6 separate regions of the Homo sapiens genome follow, and all the other regions are reported to be linked to region 2. The links are microRNA targets in miRTarBase. Many come from high-throughput screens and were not tested one by one. Region 2 holds a microRNA gene; each other region holds the end of a gene's coding sequence.
Evidence for each region. Region 2 holds the annotated microRNA hsa-miR-3180-3p (UGGGGCGGAGCUUCCGGAGGCC, at 1,855-1,876, shown strand). A microRNA usually pairs through its seed, bases 2 to 8, with sites in the 3' UTR of a target mRNA and lowers its output. Matches are read on the target gene's strand: a 7mer-m8 pairs with bases 2 to 8, a 7mer-A1 pairs with bases 2 to 7 and ends in A, and an 8mer does both.

Region 1: miRTarBase lists SLC9A7 as a target of hsa-miR-3180-3p. The part of its 3' UTR that is shown has no 7-base or 8-base seed match.
Region 3: miRTarBase lists ST7L as a target of hsa-miR-3180-3p. Seed matches in the 3' UTR shown: 7mer-A1 at 1,844-1,850.
Region 4: miRTarBase lists NEUROD2 as a target of hsa-miR-3180-3p. Seed matches in the 3' UTR shown: 7mer-m8 at 2,529-2,535, 7mer-m8 at 1,655-1,661, 7mer-m8 at 1,604-1,610 and 7mer-m8 at 1,530-1,536.
Region 5: the mRNA of SLITRK5 is a reported target of hsa-miR-3180-3p. Seed matches in the 3' UTR shown: 7mer-m8 at 691-697 and 7mer-m8 at 802-808.
Region 6: miRTarBase lists POGLUT3 as a target of hsa-miR-3180-3p. Seed matches in the 3' UTR shown: 7mer-m8 at 1,269-1,275.

The regions. Positions count from the first base shown.
Region 1 is chrX:46,604,256-46,607,410 of GRCh38, reverse strand. SLC9A7 (solute carrier family 9 member A7) reads left to right here. Exons shown (of 17, transcript NM_001257291.2): 17 at 208-3,155. The coding sequence ends at 459. Among named protein-coding and RNA genes, the nearest start is that of CHST7, 32 kb to the right of the region's middle.
Region 2 is chr16:16,308,082-16,311,236 of GRCh38, forward strand. It overlaps MIR3180-2 (microRNA 3180-2), which reads left to right and starts at 1,798; the gene lies at 1,798-1,885. The region is part of intron 1 of LOC105371099 (a long non-coding RNA gene); the gene reads right to left. It also overlaps the pseudogene LOC131696449 and the pseudogene PKD1P1.
Region 3 is chr1:112,523,178-112,526,177 of GRCh38, reverse strand. It overlaps ST7L (suppression of tumorigenicity 7 like), which reads left to right. Exons shown (of 15, transcript NM_017744.5): 15 at 67-2,664. The coding sequence ends at 165. WNT2B (Wnt family member 2B) reads right to left here. Exons shown (of 5, transcript NM_024494.3): 5 at 1-3,000. Among named protein-coding and RNA genes, the nearest start is that of WNT2B, 16 kb to the right of the region's middle.
Region 4 is chr17:39,602,877-39,606,031 of GRCh38, forward strand. NEUROD2 (neuronal differentiation 2) reads right to left here. Exons shown (of 2, transcript NM_006160.4): 2 at 892-3,155. The coding sequence ends at 2,575. Among named protein-coding and RNA genes, the nearest start is that of NEUROD2, 3.5 kb to the right of the region's middle.
Region 5 is chr13:87,677,963-87,681,117 of GRCh38, forward strand. It overlaps SLITRK5 (SLIT and NTRK like family member 5), which reads left to right. Exons shown (of 2, transcript NM_001384609.1): 2 at 1-1,654. The coding sequence ends at 303. It overlaps LOC112268106 (a long non-coding RNA gene), which reads left to right and starts at 1,978. Exons shown (of 3, transcript XR_002957486.2): 1 at 1,978-2,140.
Region 6 is chr11:108,472,336-108,475,335 of GRCh38, reverse strand. POGLUT3 (protein O-glucosyltransferase 3) reads left to right here. Exons shown (of 8, transcript NM_153705.5): 8 at 384-3,000. The coding sequence ends at 509. Among named protein-coding and RNA genes, the nearest start is that of C11orf65, 6.3 kb to the right of the region's middle. RefSeq lists a cis regulatory region at 1,799 and an enhancer at 1,727-1,871.

The DNA of each region.
Region 1 (3,155 bases), not on the chromosome of region 2:
GTTTTCTAGTATTCTAAGTCCTAGTCCTGGCAACCGTGCCCGGCCCTCTACAGTTTACATCCAGTTACCACGCTAGAGGCTCAAGGCAGGCAAGTTTCATAGTCCCCAGTTTTCAGATGAGGAGTTGGGATTGGGATTGGGGTTGGTGCCAAACCTGGAAGATATCAGTCTCTCATTTTTGTTGTTGTTGTTGGTTGCACTTTTCAGAACCAAGAGCCACTGAGAGAGGAAGACTCTGATTTCATCCTGACCGAAGGCGACCTGACATTGACCTACGGGGACAGCACAGTGACTGCAAATGGCTCCTCAAGTTCGCACACCGCCTCCACGAGTCTGGAGGGCAGCCGGAGAACGAAGAGCAGCTCGGAGGAAGTGCTGGAGCGAGACCTGGGAATGGGAGACCAGAAGGTTTCGAGCCGGGGCACCCGCCTAGTGTTTCCCCTGGAAGATAATGCTTGACTTTCCCCCCAAGCCCTGGCGCGATGGGGTAGGCTCCCGATGGGGTGAGGACAGCTGCAAGCCCTAGTGTTGTTGGAGGTGGGGCAGTGACTAGATTGAACTAACTCTTCTATTTTATTGGGGTCTGAAGCTATTGTAACACTTAAAATTTAACTCACAATGCAGATGGTGAGGCAAAAGTGTCTCTAAATTCAGACAAACGTAGACCTATTCCCACTTTTTTCACATAGTAGTGCGCTGTTTCAGAGTTAAACAAACAAAAAAAAATAGCATGCTTTAATGGTCTCCTAATTCATTCACCTGCAGTATCTGAACAAGGCGAGGCAGGTGCTGGGTGGGGGGATTCCTCCCATGAGAGGCTGCATCTCAGTACACAGCAGTGCAAGTCAAGCTGACCATAGAATTATCAAGTTAAAGAGAAGGAAGGCAATTGAGATCGGAACTCCAAGGATTATGGGAAACTTGGTGTTAAATGGGACAGAAAACATGAAAAAGCAATTTGGAGGCTCTGGCAACGAAGTCTGCTTGACTGCAACCTCATATCAGGATTCCTGACTTTATGCTGCCTGTGTTTTTTCTAGACTGAAGATTTGAAAATACATCCACGAACATTTCAACATGGAACGAAGAATTATAGTTCCTTCTCTGGCTATATCCATAAAGAAGTAGTTATGAAATGTTTAAAACCAAAGGCAAATAGTGTTATACTCTTATTTTTTGATTAATCTGAGGAAAGGAGGTATTTAGAAACTGATGATGGTATCACTGCAAAAAGCATTCAACTTTTTTTTTTTGTTGAGATGGTGTTTCACTCTGTCACCCAGGCTGGAGTGCAGTGGCGTGGTCTTGGCTCACTGCAACCTCTGCCTCACGGGTTCAAGTGATTCTCCTGCCTCAGCCTCCTGATTAGCTGGGATTACAGGTGCCCACCACCATGCCCAGCTAATTTTTTGTATTTTTGGTAGAGATGGGGTTTCACCATGTTGCCCAGGCTGGTGTCAAACTCCTGACCTCGTGATCCACCTCCCTTGGCCTCCCAAAGTGCTGGGATTACAGGTGTGAGCCACTGCACCTGGCCAGCATTCAACTTTTGAGGGCTACCATATGAGCTGACAGCCTAGGGAAATAATCACTAGGACTGAAGTATCTACTCTGGGTTTAGAAATAACACCAAATTTTGTAGGATGCTATTATCTGGGAAAGGGAAGGCAGCAAGAAACCTACAAGGCACCAGGCTAGAATTCAGAGGGAAAGAAATCTCAATGCAAAAAAATTACTGCAAAGAAATACAAGATAGTAGTCTCAAGACTAGGTAGAATTCCAAACTTTGAGCCGACGAATGCATGAGATTTCAGTGGCCACCTGAGGAATCAGAGGGCAAACAATGGAACATTAAGTATTTTCAGCCCACTAGAAAGCTCTGTCTTCTATAAGCTTAAGAGTCCGAGTGTCTTTACACCACTGAGTGCCATGCAGAGAAGGGTCATTTTCCTTGTATCTGGGGAGGCTGCTGCACCAGCTTAACATGTGGGTGTGATTTGAAAGTTAGGTTTTCAGTTTGGATTCTTTCTGGATGAGCTGTTCTGTCTGCCCACACCTGTAGTGCTGAAATACAGAAAGACCTCTCGGGAAAAGTTTGAGTTTCTCTTAATGTCTCTGTGCTTCAGTGCTAGCTTATTTTTGGCAACCCAATTTCTAAAAAATGCTTTCAATAACGTGGGCTTTTCTTTTTTTCTTTCTTTCCTTTTTTTTTTTTTTTTTGAGATGGAGTCTCGCTGTGTCACCCAGGCTGGAGTGCAGTGGCGCGATCTCGGCTTACTGCAACCTCCGCCTCCCGGGTTCAAGCGATTCTCTTGCCTCCGCCTCCTGAGTAGCTGGGATTACAGGCACGCGCCACCACGCCTGGCTAATTTTTTGTATTTTTTAGTAGAGACGGGGTTTCACCATACTGGCCAGTTTTTCTTATGATGGAAGACAAAATATTGTGTCCCAGTCTAGTCCACCCGTAGTGAAATCAGTCATTTAATCTTCTCAATTCGCATGTTTAATGCTTAATTTTTAAATAAGACATTGCTTCACAACTTTGTGTTTGAATTGATAATTTGTGCAAATCAGGAAAATACGTATTTAATTAGGTTGAGCCATATGAGTTTGCTGATATTCGACCATTTTGTAAAAACAGGAGTGGCAATTTCATATGGTTCAATAAAATAAAATTGAGACCGGGCACAGTGGCTTATGCCTGTAATCCCAACACTTTGGGAGGCTGAGGCAGGAGGATCACTTGAGCTCAGGAGTTCAAGACCAGACTGGGCAACATGGCAAAACCCTGTCTCTACAGAAATACAAAAATGAGCCAGGCATGATGGCACATGCCTGTAGTTCTAGCTACTTGGGAGGCTGAGGTGGGAGGATTGCTTGAGCCCAAGAGGCAGAGGTTGCGATGAGCTGAGATCATGCCACTGCAATCCAGTCTGGGCAACAGAATGAGACCCTGCCTCAAAAAAAAAAAAAAAATACAGTTGAATGATTTTTATTCTCCTCTTTCCTTTTTATCTACAATAAAGTCCATTTTGATTTTATGGTCATCCATGGGCTTTGGAAGTTTGAAAAATGCTAAACAACCTATCCAAACCCATGAGCCCTCAGGGTCAACTAGGCTAGTGAAGGACTTAAGAATAAGACCTACACCCCAC
Region 2 (3,155 bases):
TAGGTTTTCAATCTTGTCTACCTATTAAGCTAGGTTGCAATTTGTCCACAAGGACTCAACTATAGAAGTACGAAGTCCCACTCAGGCCATATTTAGTTCACTTTAACACTAGCTTCGGCAACTGTCTCTCAGAGCCCAGGGCAGGGCAGGGATGCAACTGGGCTTCAGGAAACTTGAATTCATTGACTGTCTCTTCCCCATCTTAGATGCAGTGCTAAGGGCTTTTTAGTAATTTTCTCATTTGACTCTCAAAACAAACTGATGAGGAAACGGTCTGAGAGTAGTTAGGCAGCTTTTCAAGGTCACACAGATAGTAAATGTCATCACTGGGACTTGAACTCAGGTCTTTCTGACTCTCATGTCTGTGCAACATGTCATCTCAGCCACTGTTGACACTGTATATGTGGATTAGGGTTGGCTAAACTGCTGTAACAAATAGACCCAACTCGAATGGTGCATGTATGTACAATAGGGGTTTATTTCTTATGATATAGTTCACGGTGGTCCCAGGTGAATAAGGATGGGTAGGTCTGCATTTTTCATAATCATCTGGATTTCTGCTCAGGCTCCTAGAGTCTCTGCCACCTTCCCCATGTGGCTTCCAAGGCCACCTTGGAGACAGAGCTTGGTGGAGCACATGTGGTAGGATTTTTTTTGTTTTTTTGAGACGGAGTCTCACTGTATTGCCCAGTCTGGAGTGCAGTGGTGCAATCTCGGCTCACTGCAACCTCTGCCTCCCAGGTTCAAGCTATTCTCCTGTCTCAGCCTCCCTAGTAGCTGGGACTACAGGCACCTGCCACCACGCCTGGCTAATTTTTGTATTTTTAGTAGAAATGGGATTTCACCTTGTTGGTCAGGTTGGTCTCAAACTCCTGACCTCAGGTGATCCACCCACCTCGGCCTCCCAAAGTGCTGGGATTACAGGCATGAGCCACCACTCCCAGCCAGTTCTTTTTTTCTTTTTTCCATTTTTTTTTTTTCGAGACAGGGTCTTACTCTGTTGCCCAGGCTGGAGTGCAGTGGCACAATCACGGCTCAGCGCAGCCACTGCCTCCTGGGCTCACACGCTCCTCCGGCCTCAGCCTCTCGAGTACCTGGGACTACAAGTGTGAGCCAGTTTGGCTAATTTTGGCTAATTTTTGTAGAAACGGGGTCTCGCCATGTTGGCCAGGCTGGTCTCCAACTCCTGGGCTCAAGGGATCCACCTTCCTCCCCCTCTCAAAGTTCTGGGATTACCGGAGTGACCCACTGTGCCCTGCTGGCAAATTTCTTAAACTGTGCCTCAGTGACCTCATTTAATAAAGGGAATAATTGTAGCACACTTTTTCTAGAGCTGTGAAGATTCAATGGAATAAATAAGGCAATAAATGAATGGATGGGGAATGAAGGATGTGGGTTTCCTCCCTCTTGTCTTTCAATAAGCTCTCACCATCAACCTCCCATTGCCTGTTCTCTCTCTTCCCCCTCTCTCCCTCTGTCTCTCTCTTAGCCAGGAAACCTGGGGTAGGGAGGCTTGGAGCCAGCGGGTGCGTCGGGAGGCTGCGGGTACTGACTGGGGACGCGCACGGAGATTGCGGGAGAAGGATCCACGCCGCGGGAGAAGGATCCATGCCGCGGGAGAAGGATCAGAGTGGAGCCTGTGGCTGCTGCAGGAGGAGGAAGCCGCCGCCTGGCCCACACCACAGGAGAAGGGCGGAGCCAGATGGCACCCTGCCCACCGCTTCCCGCCCACGCACTTTAGCCTGCAGAGGGGCGGAGCGTGAAAAATACCTCGTGCGCCTCGGCCGACTCTACAGTGCGACGGGCGGAGCTTCCAGACGCTCCGCCCCACGTCGCATGCGCCCCGGGAAAGCGTGGGGCGGAGCTTCCGGAGGCCCCGCCCTGCTGCCGACCCTGTGGAGCGGAGGGTGAAGCCTCCGGATGCCAGTCCCTCATCGCTGGCCCGGTCGCGCTGTGGCGAAGGGGGCGGAGCCTGCACCCGCCCCGCCCCCCCTCGCCCCGTCCGCCCTGCGCCGCGCGGGGAGGAGGAGGAGGAGCCGCGGCGGGGCCCGCACTGCAGCGCCAACGTCCGAGCGGGCGGCCGAGCTCCCGGAGCGGCCTGGCCCCGAGCCCCGAGCGGGCGTCGCTCAGCAGCAGGTCGCGGCCGCAGCCCCATCCAGCCCCGCGCCCGCCATGCCGTCCGCCGGCCCCGCCTGAGCCGCGGCCTCCGCGCGCGGGCGGGCCTGGGGACGGCGGGGCCATGCGCGCGCTGCCCTAACGATGCCGCCCGCCGCGCCCGCCCGCCTGGCGCTGGCCCTGGGCCTGGGCCTGTGGCTCGGGGCGCTGGCGGGGGGCCCCGGGCGCGGCTGCGGGCCTTGCGAGCCCCCCTGCCTCTGCGGCCTAGCGCCCGGCGCCGCCTGCCGCGTCAACTGCTCGGGCCGCGGGCCGCGGGCTGCGGACGCTCGGTCCCGCGCTGCGCATCCCCGCGGACGCCACAGCGCTGTGAGTAGCGGGCCCAGCGGCACCCGGGAGAGGCCGCGGGACGGGCGGGCGTGGGCGCGTTCCCTGGCCCGGGACGGGAAGCAGGACGCGGGCCAGGACGCTCCCAGGGCGAGGCTCCGGCGCGGCACAGCGGCCCTGCTAAATAAGGAACGCCTGGAGCCGCGGTTGGCACGGCCCCGGGGAGCCGAAAAACCCCGGGTCTGGAGACAGACGTCCCCACCCGGGGGCTCTGCGGACGCCAGCGGGGGCGGGGCGCGGAGGCCGCGCTCAGCTGGGAGGACAAACAGTCGCTAATTGGAGAGGAATTGGGATTCGGCCTGGGGCTGCGGGGTACCCGGAGAGATGGGGATGGCTGTAGGGGGCTGCAGGGAAGAGTTCCAGGAGGTGTCTGGACAAGGATTTGATGGATGTGCAAGAATTGGGCTGATGCTTAGGAAGGGGCGATGAGGTGGGTCCAGAAGAAGGGGGGTGAACGGTGTGAGCAAAGACCGTGAGGCTGGAGGCTGGCCACGGGAGGTGTGAGGGGTAGGGGCAGGGTGGGAGGTGGGCTCGCGGGTGGGCTGGGGTCATGAAGGGCCTCAGGCGCTCTGCTATTGGGTTCCAAGGCTATCCTGAGAACAGGGGTGAGGGCGGATTGCCGTGGGGGGTTAAAGCCTTGTCATGTTCGCTTTCGG
Region 3 (3,000 bases), not on the chromosome of region 2:
TACTCTCTTGGCTGTCCTGGGACTCCTACAGGGCTTGAACATTTTGTATCAATTTCTGTTTTGAAGGTGCTGGGACTCTGGTGCCCCCAACCCTGGGCATCCTCAGGCTTTGAGGAGAATACACAGGATTTGAAGTCAGAAGACCTAGGTTTGAGTTCTGGCTGAGCCACGCACTGTTCATGTGACCTTGGACAAATCACCAAATTTTTCTGAACAGCATCTGTAAAGTGACAGTAACCCCTACCTCACAGGGTTGTTGTGAGGATTACATATATGCTAAAGCATTTTGCATATGAAAAAGCTTCTTATGAATATTGTTATTCCTAGGCAAACCCCCCTTGGAAGCTGTCAAAAAGGACAACTGTAGATGAAATTGTCTTCCTTTTTTCTTCATTCAGCTTAGCCTTTCTGTTTGGCCAGGGCTACTTACAGGGGCTGTTGGGGTTGAAGTCAAGTCACCGCATTTTGGCTCCTTTGGTCAAAGAGAAAGAACTCTAATGTCCAGCTGCTCCATCGATATACTCATAGAATGGAAGTGAGCAAAGGAAAATTTTAAGCCAGGATAGTTAACCGTTAGGGGGCCAGTGGGAGAATGCTTGCCTTGCATTTGCACATCCAGAATGACTAAAACATCTTAAGTAAATGAGGAATAGCCACCGAGATGCTCAGAGATAATATAAGCCATGAGTGGGAAGTGGGAAAATGAGTTTGTCAACGCCCTCTCTTTTCTATCCCTTTACCTTTGAGGTCAGGGACAGGGCATATTACTGACACCCCACTGGCTATTGCCCTATACCTGCCAATCACCCAAAGAAAATAATAGCTTCTGAGAAAGCTCAATTCACTGTAGCAACTGTGATATATTTACCCTAATAAAGCCACCACTTGGTCTTTTCCAGTGCTTCTCTCTTATGGAGATCATCCCTGGAATCCAAAGCTCTCCAGTTTTCTAACCCAGTTAAGAGTTAAAAACAACCACAGGTCATGAGCAGTAGGCTTGGCAGTTATACCCCATGCAGTCATAGGAGACTGCTCCATCATTCTCAGCACATAGGGTGCACATCTCACTATCTCTGGCATGAACCAGCCTTGCGAACTTATACAGTCTCAGCCACTCTGCTTTGATGGTAATTCTTCACCACTGATCTCTCCTCACCATGCCCTTCCTGCATCCTTCCCCCAACCACCCACCAGAGGAGTTCTGGTCCCCAAACCAAAGAGTTGCCTGCAGGTTGGTAATGTGACTTTGTAGATATTCCTTGATTAAAGCCAGACCCTATTGGTATCCTTTTTGAAGTACTGGATCGAAATCTAATTGCTTTTTTTTTTAATTGTTGGGGAGAGGAGGATGAGCAGAACTCCTATGCAGCCTGAGAGAAGTTCTCTATGTGTCTGTATATGTACACCTCTGTGTGTGTGTGTGTAACCTCATGGTTGTGCTCAGGCTGACAGGGAGGGCAAAGAGTGAAAAGGAAGCATCTCTTTCTTGTTATCCAACATTGCTTCAAAGATGCCCAACCCCCGTAGTAGCAGGCAGTTCCCAAGTGGAGGGTCGGGGCAGAGGCCTCCACCAAGGCCATCAATAACCAGGTGTGAGCTACAGGTCTCTGTGTAATGTGAAGCTCTCCCGTATTTCATTTCTGCACCCAGGGGGCGGCTCTGCAGGATTGCTTACGGAGAACTCTGTGTCTGGCACCTCTCTCCACAAGGCCCAGGCGCCCAGGGTCCCACCGACCTGCCCAGGAATGCATCACATTGTTCTCTGGTGCTGTAATTTGGCTGCAGGAGCTAGGCTGAATGCCTCCCAGGGATGAGAAACATACTCTCCCTGGCGTCCTCCCTTCGCCCCAGCTAGCTTGAGCTTCTGCCCTATGACCACTGAGTGCATTTAAATAAAAACCTCAGAAAGACTGAGGAAAAAAAAATCCTAATTATCTCTCTTCTGTTAAGCCATGTAGAGACTCGTGTCCTGAGTGGGTCTGAGAATTTGGCAAAGACTTACTGGTTGGTGTTCTTGATAAGGGAAGTGAGACAAAGGAGAAGAAATTACTCCCTGCAACAGGAGGAATAGAAATGAAGCAGTGAGTGTTCAGAAATTAGATCTACAAGAAGTTTTGCAAACAGACCCTCAGGGCCAGGCAATGTTTGTTTTTGTTTTTTGTTTTTTGTTTTTTTTTTTAATCTGAAGCCCCTGATTTTATTTTTCCAGCATCACTCTAAGGAAGAGTGTGGATTAGTGCCATTATTCAGGGCTGGTATTAATAAAAGTTAGCTTTTATCTGCAGGGCTAGGTTAAGGCTGGCATTCTTACTTTTACATTAAAAAAACTGGCTACAGGCTGCGCAGCTGAGGTACTTCAGTCATGTGCCTTCTCTAAAGGATTCTTAGATCCTTAAAATATATAGTATGTTTTAAGTTTGTATCTAAATAGCACTTACTGTAATGTATTATACCTAAATGTTTATTAAAAGTTAGAAGAAATGAGTACCAACAGGAAGGAATGGAAGAGAGGAGAGGGGCTAAGACATTGCTGATCTGAGGGACAGACCTCTATCAAATAGAAGAGGGCTGGGAGAAGGGGTGATTAGAAGCAGAGTGAGGGAACTAAATGGAGCCCTGACTGCACCAAATAAAGTTCTCATTTTGCTGCTTGTTCCAAATAAATTAGTGTCTATTTGTGTAATGCAGACTAAATGCCAGTTGTGTAAAGCCAATCAATGCAGAAGCAAGCTAAGAACTAGGAGGAAAAATTAATTGCTTGGCCATCATTCCTTTTGGGACCACATAACCTCCGTGGTGGGGCTCAAATGGACATCATTTCTCTCTTATGCACCTCTCTTTTCAAACTTCTCACTCTCTGGACAGCTTGCTCTTTTCTTAACCATTTATAGGAAATTGCAAAACTTGCATCTTTATGAGCTAGAATTTGGAGCCCAAGGAAAAGCACAGAGTAGCATGAGATGCCAGAAGAGGCCCATTTCCTTCCACAGGGATGAGAAC
Region 4 (3,155 bases), not on the chromosome of region 2:
TGAGCAGGGGGAGTAGGAGGGACTCTATCAGGGAAGTCAGTTAAGAGCTGCCCCTGCCTCTCAGGTTCAGAGAAAAAAGAATTGTGAGGCCACATTGTCTGAGCAGGAGATGCTCACCCAGTGCCCTTCCTCCCTTCTAAGCCCTTAGGGTTCCCTCTGTTCAGAACTGTACCAGACAGGAAGAAATCAGCCCAGATTTGGACTGGGTGGGCGCCTGCTGCCCTGTCCCAGGGAGTACATGGTTAGGCTCCTCTCTACTGGGTGGGCGCCCAGACTCAGCCACCTCACAGACCTCTAGGGGTGTTCCTCCAACCTTGTCCACACCCCTAAACATGTCAACATTCCTGAGACCAAAATGGCCGATTCCCCTGAGTCCACCGAAATACAATTTTAAGATGAAAAAGGGGCCTCCCTCATTAATATTTCATCTTCATGACCTTATAATGTTTTGTTTTGTTTTGTTTTGTTTTGTTTAAAAATACCCCTGTCTGATTCAAATGGTTGTCTCTTTGTCTCTGCCCACTTGCTTTTTGCAACAGTGGGCAGAGAGTTGTAAAATGACTGGCTGTTCCCAACTTGATCATTTTTCAGTGATGAAAAGGTATTTTGTTTTCAAGGGAGGTGCCTGTGCATGTTCAGGAATGAAGAAGTGTAAGGATATCAGTGCTTTAGTGCTGGGAAGGTGCGAGCCTGGGTTGGGTCTGGGAGGGGTAGCTAGTATAGCCCAGTGGGTGTATGGGGGGTGGTTAGGGAGAGAATACTACCCAAGAATGTCCAGGGTCCCTCTGTTTGGCCTCTGCACAGTCACTTGACACTCTGCCTTCATCACCCCAGCCCCAGCTCAAACCTTCTCTCCCCCCTCAATGAAATGAGGCCACCGTGAGAAACCGGTCCGGCTTTGCATCTCATTTACATAAATATTTATTAATCGTCATTAAACTGAACAGAAACACGCAATGCACTTCGGGTGTCCGACGGGAGTTTCATCTTCGCTACAAGAGGAAGGTAAAATTGCGTGTGTGTGGGTGAGTGTGTGGGTGTGTCGCCTGTGGGATTGCATTTTTGCATCGTGTATTTGGATGCCTGATCCCCTGCCTCCGGTGGGCAGAGGGTCTCCTTTTGCCCCTTTTTGGGGGAACCTCCAGTAGGAGCCCTCAGACCTCTCCCCGCCCACCCACCAGCTAAAGCCAAGAGGACTCCTTGGACCAAAAAATACTCTCTCCAGACACCGGAAATCGCCAGGTGGCACCCACCGAGGCACAGTCCGGGCAGGGGTGGGGCTGCCCCCAGGTCTCCATCCCCACCCCTCACCCCAGGAGGGGACAGAATGGCCGCGGGGAGGAGGAGCCGGCGAGCTCACCTCCTTCTGCCCCCCGGACGCCGGCGCCGGGCCTGCTTGTGCGTGCGGTGTGGTGTGCGTGTGTCTTTCATGCAAACCCTCCCTCCCCAAACCGACCCCCCAACAGTTTGCCATTCCATACAAATTTGGAAACAGGTTTTTAAAAAACAGCATGACGCACAACGGGGACGGGGCGGGGGAGGGCAGTGGCACTGGGGCCCCAAATCTCCGAGTCACTGATTGTAAGAACCTGGGGAGGGGGAGGGGGCGGCGCGGGCCCCCACTTCACCAAAGTGCACAGATCCGCGCTCGGGCGGGGCGGCCCGCAGGCCGGGCGGGGCATCCCGGGGCCGGGCCGGGCCGCGAGGCTCAGTGGAGCCTCCTTGCATAGATATTTGTGTCTTTGATTATTGGTAGTAGTGGTTTTTTTTTGTTTGTTTTTTTGTTTTTTGTTTTTTTTGCCTTTTATTGCTTCTAAAAGTCCTTACTGCGTTTTCTCTCCGATCCGGACTCTGCGTTCGGCTTCCGTCGCCTCTTAGCTTTTTTTTTTTTTTTTTTTTTTTTTTTTTTTTTTTTTTTTGTATGTTTGTTTGTTTAAAAAAAGGAAAAGGGAAAAACGGATTCTAGTTACAAATTGTCTTGGCCTCTCTCTTTCCTCTCAATCCACTTCCCCTCCCGCCAAAATTAAAATCGCAAAACGCGGAGACTGGAGGTTGGGGGTGAGGGCGTTCCAGGCCCGGGCTCCGGCGCCCTAACTTCTACCCTCTTCAAGAAAGAGGGAGCGCCTGGCTCCTTTTTGCCTCGGCAGCTGGGTGTCTGTTTTTAAAATAATAATGAGAGGGGGAAACGCGTTCCATTGCTCAGCTGCCCCCTTACCAACGCCTTGGGCCTGCAGGGAGGAGGGGGAGGAGGAAACCTCAGCGAAGATATTGGGAATGGGGGAGGGGTGCCTCCAGGGAGCCCCCGGAGAGAGGTCCCTGGAGAAGCACTCCTTGGGAGAGAGGAGGAGGGAACCCCTTGGGGAGAGAGAAGGCGAGTCCCCTGGGGGAAGCGAGGCCCCTGGGACAGGCCACCCACAGGTAACAGGACTGCGCTGCCCCAGGAGAGCGGCAGGACCGGTGGCCCGCTCCCCGCGCCCGGCGCCGGGGTAGGATGGGGGTGTCCCTGCGCTCTGGGGGCTGGGGACAGGGGGGCGGGCAAAGGCAAAAGAAAAAGAAGGGAGCCGGCGCGAAGTCTCAGTTATGAAAAAACGCATTGAGCTCCTCGTACATGGGGCCCCGGTCGTGGTGAAGGTGCATATCGTAAGACAAGAGATTCTCCGAGTGGACGCCCCCGCGCACAGCCGACGAGCCGAAGACTAGCCCGTGGCCCGTGGGCCGCGAACCGGGCAGCGCCGAGTAGTGCATAGAGTAGTGGTAGCTTTTCTCGTGGTCGGGCGAGGAGTCCTGCTTGAGTGAGAAGTTGCCATTGAGACAGAGCGGGGGGCTGAGCGGGCCCTCGTACTCGGAGCTGTTGTAGTCCGGGCTCGCGCCGCCACCGCCTGCCGCCGCATACAGCGTCTCGTAGGCGGCGCAGTAGCCGTGGGTCCGCAGGGCGTGCGCCGCGCCGCCGCCCAGGCCGCCGGCCGCCTGGCACTGTGCGCCCGCCAGGCGCGAGCACGGGTACGGGTAGGGGTGCATGGCGAACGGGCCGCCCGAGCCGTGGAAGCGGCCGGCACCGTCGGCGCCTTGCTCCGTGAGGAAGTTGCGAGAGTTGAGCTGCAGACAGCCGGCCACCAGATTGGTGGTGGGCTGCGACAGACCCTTGCACAGAGTCT
Region 5 (3,155 bases), not on the chromosome of region 2:
TTAGAACCAGACAAACACTGCTCCACCACCCCCGCCGGCAATAGCCTCCCGGAATATCCCAAATTCCCGTGCAGCCCCGCTGCTTACACTTTCTCCCCCAACTATGACCTGAGACGCCCCCATCAGTATTTGCACCCGGGGGCAGGGGACAGCAGGCTACGGGAACCGGTGCTCTACAGCCCCCCGAGTGCTGTCTTTGTAGAACCCAACCGGAACGAATATCTGGAGTTAAAAGCAAAACTAAACGTTGAGCCGGACTACCTCGAAGTGCTGGAAAAACAGACCACGTTTAGCCAGTTCTAAAAGCAAAGAAACTCTCTTGGAGCTTTTGCATTTAAAACAAACAAGCAAGCAGACACACACAGTGAACACATTTGATTAATTGTGTTGTTTCAACGTTTAGGGTGAAGTGCCTTGGCACGGGATTTCTCAGCTTCGGTGGAAGATACGAAAAGGGTGTGCAATTTCCTTTAAAATTTACACGTGGGAAACATTTGTGTAAACTGGGCACATCACTTTCTCTTCTTGCGTGTGGGGCAGGTGTGGAGAAGGGCTTTAAGGAGGCCAATTTGCTGCGCGGGTGACCTGTGAAAGGTCACAGTCATTTTTGTAGTGGTTGGAAGTGCTAAGAATGGTGGATGATGGCAGAGCATAGATTCTACTCTTCCTCTTTTGCTTCCTCCCCCTCCCCCGCCCCTGCCCCACCTCTCTTTCTCCCCTTTTAAGCCATGGGTGGGTCTAACTGGCTTTTGTGGAGAAATTAGCACACCCCAACTTTAATAGGAAATTTGTTCTCTTTTTCCGCCCCTCTCCTTCTCTCCTCCCCTCCCCTCCCTTCTCATTCCTTTTCTTTGTTTTTAAAGGATGTGTTTGTATGCATTCTGGACATTTGAATTAAAAAAAAAGTATTGTGATCCTGTAAAGGATCACCATAGATGTGGACAAATCATTAAAATTACAGAGCTATATGATCCATAATTGATTAGTCAAAATAACTTATTGATGAAATATACAAATATTTTATTGTAGCACCTATTTTTATATGCACATTTAGCATTCCTCTTTCCTTCACTATTTAGCCTATGATTTTGCAGAGGTGTCACACTGTATTAGGATCTGCATTTCTAAAACTGACGTGGTATCAGGAAGGCATTTTCAATCATTCAAAATGTGGAGAATTTAATGGCTAAATCTTTAAAAGCCAATGCAACCCACCCAATTGAATCTGCATTTTCTTTTAAGAAAACAGAGCTGATTGTATCCCAATGTATTTTAAAAAATAGGGCAATTGATTGGGCCATTCCGAGAGAATTGTTTGCAAGTTTTGGGTTTTATTAGAAAATATTTGAAAGTATTTTTATTAATGAACCAAAATGACATGTTCATTTGACTACTATTGTAGCCGATTTTCGATTGTTTAACCAAACCCAGTTGCATTTGTACAGATCCACGTGTACTGGCACCTCAGAAGACCAAATCATGGACTGTACAAGTCTCTATACAATGTCTTTATCCCTGTGGGCAGCAAGCAATGATGATAATGACAAACAGGATATCTGTAAGATGGGGCTACTGTTGTTACAGTCTCATATGTATCCCAGCACATGTAATTTTTTAAATAGTTTCTGAATAAACACTTGATAACTATGTCAAATATGAGGGATGGAAGTAATGATTACTTAAGGTGCAAAAGACTTAACTATGTGTGATTGATAGAATCTCCATCATTAACAATTTAGGAAATAGTTCCTAAACTTTATTCCTAATACAAAATGTGTTTCCCCTAATTAGCAAAATTGTAAAGTATATAGTATATATATAGTATATAGTATATATAGTATATAGTATATATATAGTATATAGTATATATATAGTATATATATAGTATATATAGTATATATGTATATATATAGTATATATAGTATATATATAGTATATAGTATATATATAGTATATAGTATATATATACTATATATAGTATATATATATATAACATACATGACATATATAAGTAATTTATTCCTTTGTTGGTTCAGGGAAGTATGATTTTCTAAATGTGTCGCTTAATGTGTTTATTAATGCAGTTTCAATTATATACACTCTTTCCTTACTGAAGTATTCATCTACTACGTGGAGCATGGTAAGTAATATATCGCATATTCACTTTTCTCTTAATACAATGTAATTGTCATATCAGTATTATTTATTCAGTCTACAGTTTTCCATAGTTTTCATATTTTTAATTTGTGTAAAACTACCTTCAACAGTTATGATGGATTCCTTATCTAAAGTTGATCAGTATTCTAAATGCTCAAAATGGTGTATATGAGCTCGTCATCTTTGAATAAGGTTTTCTAGTGAGTTTAGACACAATTTAAGGATAAGAAATGTTTCAATTATGTGCTTCATTGCTATAGGTGGATCTCCCCATAGTTTCACCTGGAATTTGTACAATATCAAGGGCTGTTCATGAACTTTGTGTTTAAAGAACAATTTCCATGGCATTCTGCCACAAAGAGGCAGCATTCACCCATGAGAAAATTGACAGTAACTACTTGAATTCAGGTTGAACAGGTGGTACCAGTTTCCCGGAGGATTAAAAAAAAAACAAATTGTAATGCTACATTGACCAAGTACAGTAAGCTGTTCATATTCTTTGCAACATTTTCCTTTCTAATTTTTTTTTCAAAGGGGAAAGGAATAAGCTTAATAATGTCATGGTATTATCATGAAGAAAAGTGCATTGCTTGCTCTTCATCTACCTCCTCTATATTAGATCCAAGATTAGAAAAGAAAAAAAAAATACTAGCATTTGACTTCAAAATTGAGATTGGTATTATTCTTCACAGCAGCAGGAAGTTATTTTTTTAATGTCAGTATCACTTCCTCAACCTTATTATATATAGATATGACAGTTTTATAAATTATAAAATATAAATGTAAAGTGGAATCCTCCATGTAACTTAGTTTTATTTCTTAATTGGTGCATAAAATAAAAAGATAAGAATTACATAAAATTAATGACTTAGTTCTGGGCAATATAAGTAACTTTCAAAGAAAGTTTAGTGATGTATTTTTCAAAGATTTACAAAATTTTATTGTAAAACCAGCATTATTTTACATCATTTTGTCACATATACTCCCTTTAGGTGGTT
Region 6 (3,000 bases), not on the chromosome of region 2:
TTTTCAGATGGTTATCTTGTTTGTTTGCTGGCTTGAGTATTCAACAAAGTTAATTATTCAATAACAAGTGGAAAATAAATGCTGAGAGCTGCTGTTTGTTTCAGGTAGGGACGTCTGGCTTGGCATCCCTTTTGTAGAGGCTTCCAACCAACACATAAAATTGTGGATTGGGGTTTCTTGCTAGATTATGAATTATAACTAGTGCCTGTGATAGCTAAAGTTAAAATGTAACTTTAGGACTGGAATAAACCAGACCTTTGGTTTTAGTCTGCAGACACACAGCAACTAGAAAAGATGGCGTGACTGCGGATGGGAGTGGGTGGGGGAGTCAACAGAATGCAGTGTGAACTAACCTTTCAGTTCCCTTTAAACCCACGTTTCAGAAATATGCCGAGCGCCAGTCCAGCAAACCCGAAGTACGTGATGGAATGGAACTTGTTCCTCAGCCAGAAGATAGCACAGCCATCTGCCAGTGCCACAGGAAAAAGCCTTCAAGAGAAGAACTTTGAGTCAGCCCAGAATCACACTCCTGTGTATCCCGGCTACACTTTAAGGAAAGATTGAATCTAAGCTGTGAAGGACAGTATAGAAGACTGCACCAAGTGGACTAGTTCTCCCGGTGGCTTTATATATGTAGATGGATATAGCAGTACTGGTTGAGTATCCCTCATCTGAAATGCTTAGGACCAGGAGTGTTTCAGGCTTCAGATTTTTTAAGATTTGGGAATATTTGCATGTACATAATGAGGTATCTTGGGGATGAGATCCAAGTCTAAACACAAAATTCATTTATATTTTATATATACCTTGTTCACATACCCTGAAGGTAATTTTATATAATATTTTTAATAATTTGTGCATGAAACAAAGTTTGTATACATTGAACTGTCAGAAAGCAAAGGTGTCACTATCTTAGCGACCCAAGTGGTGGTGTCAGCACTCAAAAAGTTTTGGATTTTGGGGTATTTCAGATTTTAGATTTTTGTATGAGGAATGTTCAACCTGTATTTGAACAAGCATTACCAAATATCATTGAATATTAATATCTTTTGCGTAAAAACTGCTATTATCAGCATCATAGTTTCTCTAAAAAGAAAACTTGGGGATCATAGCCGATAGAGAGACTTGCTAAAATATAAATCAGCCTCTGCAAAACTGTTTACATATTTATTGGTTTACATATTTTATTGGTTTATTTCTATCCCCTGTTCACTTTTTCTCTTCCACTTCCAATTATGAAGAGAAAATATTTGTTCAGGGTTGTCCCCCCGCCCCCCGTCACTGCATAATTTCTCCTCTTACAAGCTGCTTTTGGCTTTCATTAATAACAGCTTCCTTTTAGAAGGTCTGATAAGGATATTTAAGGAAGAAGAGAATGACTCTGTTATTAAAGGTGGCATGGAGACTGTGGAGGGAATATTTTTTAAAGCACTACTCATATCCTTTAAACTAAATTTTGCCAAAGCCCGAGACAACATTAAGGAGAAATTGTACCTTAAGTTAGTAATTCCAAATCTATCTGAGTTGTATACCCATCAAAGACAATACAGTTATTAACATAGATGAAGGTATGCTATAGGCATCATTCATTATCTCTATATTGAATAGGTGAAAGATAACTGTAGTCAGGTGAAAGGCATTCATTATTTTTAAGCTGAAAAGGGGATCCTTGAAAACACTGAAAACCTCTACAACAATCTTCAGGAAGCCTGCTATCTTGGGATTCACTAATAATAGGCCAAGAACAAAGGCAAGCATCCATTCCTCACTCCACCACTTTTCTATTTCAGTGGGTGTCGTTGCTACGATGAAGACTTTGGAAATTTCCTTTCTCTTTTAGGACAGGGTCAGGATTTAGGACTCATAGCCTGAAAGCTCATTACATACTCCTTGTAACCATCAGTCCAAGGTTCAGTTCACTAAAGTGCATGTTCTAAAACAAGAGCTATCCTCATTCCAAATTTTAAAATATGTACTCTGGCCGGTTGCAGTGGCTCACGCCTGTAATCCCAGCACTTTGGCAGGCCGAGATGGGCGGATCTTTTGAGGTCAGGAGTTTGAGACCAGCCTGGCCAACATGGTGAAACCCCGTCTCTACTAAAAATACAAAAATTAGCCAGGCATGGTGGCATTTGCCTGTAATCCCAGCTACTCGGGAGGCTGAGGCAGGAGAATCACTTGAACCTGGGAGGCAGAGGTTGCAGTGAGCTGAGATTACACCACTGCACTCCAGCCTGGGTGACAGAGTGAGACTCCATCTCAAAAACTGAAAATAAAAATAAAAATATGTATTCTCCTAACTGAAATATTTACTTAATCTGGAAAACAATGTAACTATTTTTAAAGTGGTTACATCTATTCTTGCTGAAGAACAATAAACAGAATTTTTTGACTAAGCATAACCAAATTTCAGAACAGTCTAATCAATGCCAAGTATCCAAGGCAAACTCTAATACCCATCCATTGTGCAAAACCACAAGCACGCAAGTATTAAATAAGAGCAAGCTGTCCTGAGCCCATACCTAATGAATTTGTGTCTTAAATATTGTACATTGTGTTTGAGGCTTGTCAAAACTGGGATTATGGCAAGAAAGGTTGCCTAACTCATACCTTTCTGCCTCAAATTCCAGGTGCTAAAGGCTAATGGCATTTTAAACATCTTACATTTTTAAAAATTTATATTGCCTCTGCCAAACAGGCCTAATAGTTAAAAGCAAGTTGAGACAAACCAGGCAGATTCAGTGTGTGGAACAGGAAGGATGTGCTTTAAAAAAAGGTGGAATCCCTCAAAAAATTCTATAGGGAGACAGCAGCCTTAATCTACATAATTCTTCATCTCGCCAATTCAGCCGCAGCCTTTAAAGAGTTAGTGTTAATGGCTTTCTGGTTTGAAAACAAAAATGCATCTATGTGGTTGAAAGTTTGGGAGGAGATTCACCAATATCTGAGGAGAAGATGGAGTGAAGGGAATTCTTACTTTTTGCTTTATACCTTTCTATA